Linked DNA regions of Homo sapiens. The protein of the gene in region 2 purifies or fractionates together with the protein of the main gene of each other region. This does not show direct contact. Each region holds a gene or a part of one and is shown on either strand. Other genes may lie near its edges.

Region 1 (3,500 bases), on a different chromosome or scaffold from region 2:
AAACAAATATAATGACCAAAGTCTATCCTTAGCATTTTTGTCAGATAATAGTCTCTCTGGACATCTGAAACAAAATTGACTCTTGAGTAAAAAAAATCTATGGTAACTGTATTCAAAATTCTAATATTGAAACATCTATTTTGAGTAGTGTGAGATGTCTCATTTATAGTACATTTAAAAATCCTCAAAACGGCTGGGCATGGTGGCTCACTCCGTAATACCAGCACTTTGGGAGGCAGATCACTTGAGGCCAGGAGTTCGAGACCGGCCTGGCCAACATGGTAAAACCCCATCTCTACTAAAAATACAAAAATTAGCCAGGCATGGTGGTACATGCCTGTAATCCTAGCTACTTGGGGGCCTGAAGCAGGAGAATCACTTAAACCTGGGAGGTGGAGGCTGCAGTGAGCTGAGATCGTGCCACTGCACTCCAGCCTGGGCAACACAGGGAGACTCCGTCTCAAAAACAAAACAAAGCAAAAAACCCAAACCAAACCTCAAAATTCCCATGTAGCTAAGGATAAACAGTTGTAGTAATGCTGTTCTTCACATCTATACAAATGTAGAAACTAGCTTGAATTTCAGCATTCCTCCTTTTGACTCATCTAAACAAGAAGCAAAGAATAGTGTAGCTTTACAAGTCAGATACAGCCAGACATCTGAAAGACTGTTCATGAAAACACGAGGCATACAGTAGAAATGGGCAAATTTTAATCTACCAGTATTGCCTCTAAATGATTAAAGGCTGGCACTGGAAGGAAAGTTCATTGACAGCACACAAATGCCACATTTCTGGTTTATAACACATCTTAATAGTCTTTGAAAAGCTGCTTTCATGTTACAGGAAGGTCTTGGTTACTCAGATTCTAAACAGCTAGCAAATTCTAGTAATCACAGTTATTTTCTACAGCCCTATAAAATCAGTCATGTTCAGAATGATGAGCCTCAAATACTGAGAAATGAAACCAAACCATCCCTTGAATACAAATATGTTGATTTACTATCAATGTATAGATACAATTCAGATTCTTAGAGTTGATCTCAAATGCTCTGTTTCTCTCTATTTCACCTGGCCAACTCTTACTCAGGCTTTGAAACCAAGCTCCTGAATTACCACCTCTGAGAAGACTTCTGTGGTAATTACTCTAATCCTCTCCCGAAGATCAGATTGAACAAATCACTCCCTTTTCTCCATTCCCAGAGCAATGTGTTCACAGCTCGGTTACACACTCACCAAGTTTAATTATAATTGATCTGTTTACTTGTTTCCCACTCTAGACTTTTAGTTCTTGAAGGCAGAGAAGAGGATCTATTCATCTTTGTAGCCCCAGTACCTAATGCCGCACCTGGCAAACAGGTGTTTCATATGTGTTGGCTGAAAGAAGGAACGGAATTAACCAGACCATACTGCCATTCCTTGAGCATGCCATGCATTTTCATGCCGTTGCTCATGCTGATTCCTTTCCTGGGAAGCCCCCTACTGCATTTCTCTGCCAGCTCAGAAGTCACCTGCTTGTAAGATTATAAAAGCTAAACTCCTTCTGCACTGCAAACTTCACACAGGACCACTACCTACCTACTTCTTTGTGCTCCATGAAACTATTCATGCCTCAAGTCATTCATACTGTATCAGATTGCTAGAGGTCTACTTCTTTGTCTTTCTTGCTAGATCCTGGATCTAGAGGGCAGATGTTGACTTAGTCTTCTTTTGTGGTCCCAGCACAGTATAAGGAACATAGATGCAGTACGGGTCGTTTAATATTCCATTTTCCAACTTTGGGCAGTTATTCTAATCTTGTGTTATGCCTTCTGTCCTTAAGCAGTTAATGTTAGCAAGATAACCCTCTTGTATGAAAAATGCCAAATGCTGTAACATGCTAATGTGATCTGAATTTTCAAGCACTTCTTGTATTCCTAGCAACAGCAAATAATGGTCGCTGTCCTATAGGAAGCCAGTCATATTTTCAAGAAAGTTAGCCCTTCTTAGTATTTGCTCTTTTGCATTATGAAGAAAACATGCAAAAGATTTTTAAGTTCTTACATTAGTTCTCCTCCTTGGAATAAGAATGTAAGAGAATCACATTTAGTGTTCAGAATCTCTTGGGAGGGGAAACTTCAAGATGAGAGGCATCGTTAAATAATACTTAGAATAGCAATCCTAACCAACCATTCTTGGCAATAATAGAAAAAGTGACACCACTAACCATAATTTTACTAATATCCTAACAAGAACTTTTTTCCCTCAGATTGATACATAACGAAACAATCAAAGAGGTAAATAACAGTAAAGATTTAGACCAAAGTCATCCACATTTAAGCTATCGTTGCTCGAGTCTGCTGGTTTTTGAATCAGAAAATCTAAAACAAACAACAACAACAACAAAACAAAAAAAACCTCTAAGTAATGGAGCAATTTTTGTGTTTTCTAGCACTTTTACTAGTGAATGGTATTCTTTCATAGCTGTTTTAAAAAATATCACAAGATTTCTTGGTCATTAATCATTCATGGAGCTTTTATTTTTTAATTCAAAATTTTTTCCCACAAAGGGCAAGAATTCTCACAATTACTATTTAAGAAAGAGCAGCTCTGTAACATATCTGCATTTTTTAATATCTTTTGCACATAAAGGGTTTTTAAACCTTTATGATTGCTATAACCAAACTTAATGAAATTCAAATCTATTCAACAAGTTGATTCTCAAATGCATTAAAGGTTTGTAGGACGTTACATAATCAAAAGAAAACACTGACTACTTCCTTTTAAAAGATGCAAATCCCCCTGCCCCCTCAAAAAAAAAAAAAAAAAAAAAAAAAAAAAGCAGCTATGCTGAATTTTTCCTGTAATTCTGAGTACCTTAAAACTTAAGTAGATCAATCCTGGTAAAAGCACTTGAGAATGTACTACTGGATTCTCATGCTTCTTTTTAACTTATAATATCTTCCAAGAAAAAAAACAGTTCAAATTCATTCACAGGGGAAGGGCTTTCTGAAGAGTGGTTCCAACTGCCAACTTCAAAATAAAAAATGCATAAAAGGCTGGAATCAAGCAGTTTAAACCATACTGGTTTTAATGTCACTTAATGAACCTTAGTCCATATGTAATCAAATTTTACATATTTTGTTTAAACTAAAACTTTGGCTTATCCAGAATAATCTTATCTTGGATTTTAGAAATGCCAAGTCTCTACTATGCTCACTTGTATAAAATGACAATGAATGTATCCTCCATACCATTTAAGTATATGATGCGACTTGACTTCTGAAACTTCAAGCTTTTTTTTAAAAAAAGAGTAAGAACTTAAACAGTCAACCATGAAAGGCAAACAGTACAGTGACATAACAAAGCAAATAAAAACACACACACACACCCCTGACTGGATGATCAGGAGCTCCTGCCCTGGCAATGCCTAAGAACCTTCTGGGCTCCTTTGGTATCCTCATCAAGAAAATAAGGGAATGAGGTGAGATGGCATCTGAAGTCTCGGATACTGTCCTATACC
Region 2 (3,500 bases):
TCACTGACTAGTTCTAGGAAGGTCCAGTGAGTCAGAGTTCTTAAGCAATACACAGCACAGACAGAAAGAAAGGAAAACAATGCTTCTGCATAGTTTGTTTCTGTTCTGTTGTTTGTTTTGTTTTGCCTTTCCAATAATTCTACTGTTACATTACTATTCATTTTGTCCTTCTTTTAAAAAGTGTAAAATAAAGCTAAAAATTTGAAATCCTTGGTTTGGTAACAGAAAAACAAAATGGAAATGTTAAGGTTCTTCAAGAAAGAGAAGTTTTTCCTGTTAATGGACAATGAAGAAAATATGAGAAAATAAGCCATGGAGAGAGCTGTTGGTAAAGGGTAGCTCAGGGGTTGCAAGCAAACCAGCATGCCTGGTCCAGAAGTGACGGGGGCAGAGTTGAGAACAAAGAACAAGGGAGGACAGAGGCCTTGGAGAGGTGCCAGGATCCTGAAAACCAGAAGGATTCAAGTACATGTTGGTGATATTCAGAAACGGCAGTTGATTTTATAACAATTTCAGATCAGCTTATTTATATCACATATAAACAATGCTGTATGAAGCCTATAAATGTGGAAAGACTAGAAAAGCAAGTTAGGTAAAACACCAAAACTAACAAATAGAAGACAGAAAAAGGAAGGAATGTCATACAAACGATTATAAAACACACAGAAAAGAGTAAATACAGCTGGATTTGTGTTACTCCCAATTTGGGAATTAAGAAGACAGGAAATTTGGTTTTCTTAATTCCTTTAAAGGAAATAAAATACTAGGAGAAAATATAAATTACTGTGTCTTTTAAAAAAATTTTAATGTTAAAAACTTTTCTCTGGAGCCTTGATTAATTATAAAATAGCTTTCTCTTTCTTAAAATTTCCTCTGATTTTTCTTTGTGTTATATTAATATATTAGAACATTTAATTATTTCCATGACTTTCCTGGCATTGTTATCATTCTCTTTTTCATAGCCTGTTTCTGAATAATAAGTTTCCCTTATTCTTTGTATAATTTCTTTATGGAATGAGGAAAAATAGAAAAGGGACAGTAAAATCTGAATTCCACATTCTTTGTCCTATTTCACCCATTTTTTTTTGTACTGATCTCAATTTAAATACAAGACTTTATGTCTTCAACATGATTGGCAACATAAACATAAAATAATTTAGCAGAGCACTTAAGCAAATTTATCACTGCATAGACTACAGCAAATAGAACCAATTTCTTCAAAGGACACAACCCACATATAAAAGTTATTTTATGCAGTTTGGAGATTGCTACCATTTGTAGACTTGGAAATACAACTATATGCTTCTGGTTGCATTCTTGTACCTCAGACAAAAATGCACTATATTTGAACACCCTTTTCCAAATAAGATGGTTATATTTTCCAATTGGCACATCTAAGTTACTCTAAGAAATCAGAGTCCAAAATCAATGTGGGCAGATGAGAGATAATAGTGTCTCCAAAATAGTGCTGTGTTGTCTATAAGGTGTGAGTTTTTCCTCTTACCGAGCATGAATAGAAATATAATTTGAAGACATAGCAGAATACCACTTTCATATCCACCTAAAAATACTCATCATAAAACAAAACAACTGAAACAACAAAAAGGTATATATCAAATATTTTTACATAATAGTGACATTATAGCTCAAGTGGCCAAAACAACATGAGTTCTTTGAATAAATAGAAATTATGGGTGTGGAGAGCCATCTAAAATTTTACTAACAATCTTCAGGGAGAAGAGTAGCATAAACTTACTTGTGCTTTACTGTGATTTAAAAAAATAATTTTCCTATTGTAACACTTTTTTCTTTTCAGTCAAAAAAGTTTAATATACTTGAGGAATACTAAAAAGAGAGAGAGAAAAAGAGATCATAAGAAACTTGAAAACTTCCAGTTTGAACATTATGGTGTACTGTGAATATTTCCCCTTTTTATTCTTGGAAATCATCCCAACACATAGACAATGAGGAAATATTATGCAAATGTCCTACTTAGAGGAAATAGGAAACAGTGAAATCCTAGACCCAAATTCAATGAACTGTTTCCTAAAACAGTGATGATACAGCATGAGGGTGTACAGGAGGAAACAGAGAAAAGACACTTTGAAGAAACAGTCCAGAAGCTGCAGATTTTAAAAAAGAGCCGGCAAACTTACTTCCTATAAGGCTAAGGGTACCTTGTAGATATGAGGCAACAATTTGAGGGAGAAGCATCTATGGAAGCAGTTTGGTTCTAAAAAGCAGACAAAGTGAGGCTAAATTAAGAGCTATACAGAAAAATCATATTACAGAAAGCAGTCTACATCTGTGGAAGCAGAGAAGTACAGTCTTTTATTGTAAAATAACAACAACAATAACAAAACAGAACAAACAACAAAACCCACTCTGTCTATCTCCATTGGCTGGACCAAAAAAAACTCACTTTTCTCAGTGACACATAAGAAAACTTGAGGCCAGGTGCAGTGGCTCACGCCTGTAGTCCCCGCACTTTGGGCGGTTGAGGTGGGTGGGTCACCTGAGGTCGGGAGTTCAAGACCAGCCAGACCAACATGGAGAAACCGAATCTCTACTAAAAATACAAAATTAGCCGGGTATGGTGGCACACACCTGTAATCCCAGCTACTCAGGAGGCTGAGGCAGGAGAATTGCTTGAACCTGGGAGGTGGAGGTTGCAGTGAGCTGAGATTGTGCCATTGCACTCCAGCCTGGGCAACAAGAGCAAAACTCCGTCTCAAAAAAAAAAGAAAGAAACCTGAACAAGCATAGAATCTATATAAAGATACTAAAAGAGAAAAAGTGAGAAAGGGAAGGAGAGAGGGAGGGAAGGAAGGGAGGAAGGGAGGGAAAAAGAAAGCAAAGAAGGAAGGGAGGGAGGGAGGAAAAGAGGAAAGGAGAAAACCAATGGAGATGGGGAGCAAAAACTAAACACGTTACCATAAACAAAGTTGAAAATTGTAACCAAACATTTCACCGTGAATTTTTAAAATGTAATGAATAGAAATCACCTTTTGAAAGCAATTATATAGTGCAGATATGCAAGAAGTTAGAGAGAGGTGAGTGAATTAAGAACAAGAGATGAATTTTAAGTTATAAGTGCTCAACCAAAAGGTACAATGAGAAAAAGTAAAAGTACTATGAAAACGAAAGAGATTGGAAGTAATACAGAGAAAGAGAAACTCATGAAAGTATAAAATGGTAGCAAAAGTTAAAGTGAAAATGCAAACTAAGTTAATTAGATATTAATAGACTCAAAGGGATTAGAGAGAAATTGTAGAGTGCAGTGCAGACTAAAGAAATCCAAAATACATAAAAAAGGAGTCCCTGAAAAATAAACCGTAAACTTAGATATAAGTTAAGAAATTCTTCATGAAATAAAAGAAGACTTGACTCTACATTTTGGGAAAAAGATACAAACAAAAATAAGAAAGCATGTCCCTGGGAAAAATAATCCAGAATAGTCAGCACTAAAATATTCTAGTAAAGTCACTAAACTTCAACTA

The links. Proteins that work in one complex are often made in the same cells at the same time.
Region 1: the proteins of BANK1 (region 2) and ITPR1 purify together in Homo sapiens (affinity purification with western blotting, with the first as the bait; one study listed by BioGRID). This does not show direct contact.

What each region holds. Positions count from the first base shown.
Region 1 is NC_000003.12:4,839,348-4,842,847, reverse strand, and holds part of ITPR1 (inositol 1,4,5-trisphosphate-gated calcium channel ITPR1), read right to left. Parts: intron 1-3,500. UniProt on the Homo sapiens protein: Inositol 1,4,5-trisphosphate-gated calcium channel that, upon inositol 1,4,5-trisphosphate binding, mediates calcium release from the endoplasmic reticulum (ER).
Region 2 is NC_000004.12:101,832,230-101,835,729, reverse strand, and holds part of BANK1 (B-cell scaffold protein with ankyrin repeats), read right to left. Parts: intron 1-3,500. UniProt on the Homo sapiens protein: Involved in B-cell receptor (BCR)-induced Ca(2+) mobilization from intracellular stores. Promotes Lyn-mediated phosphorylation of IP3 receptors 1 and 2.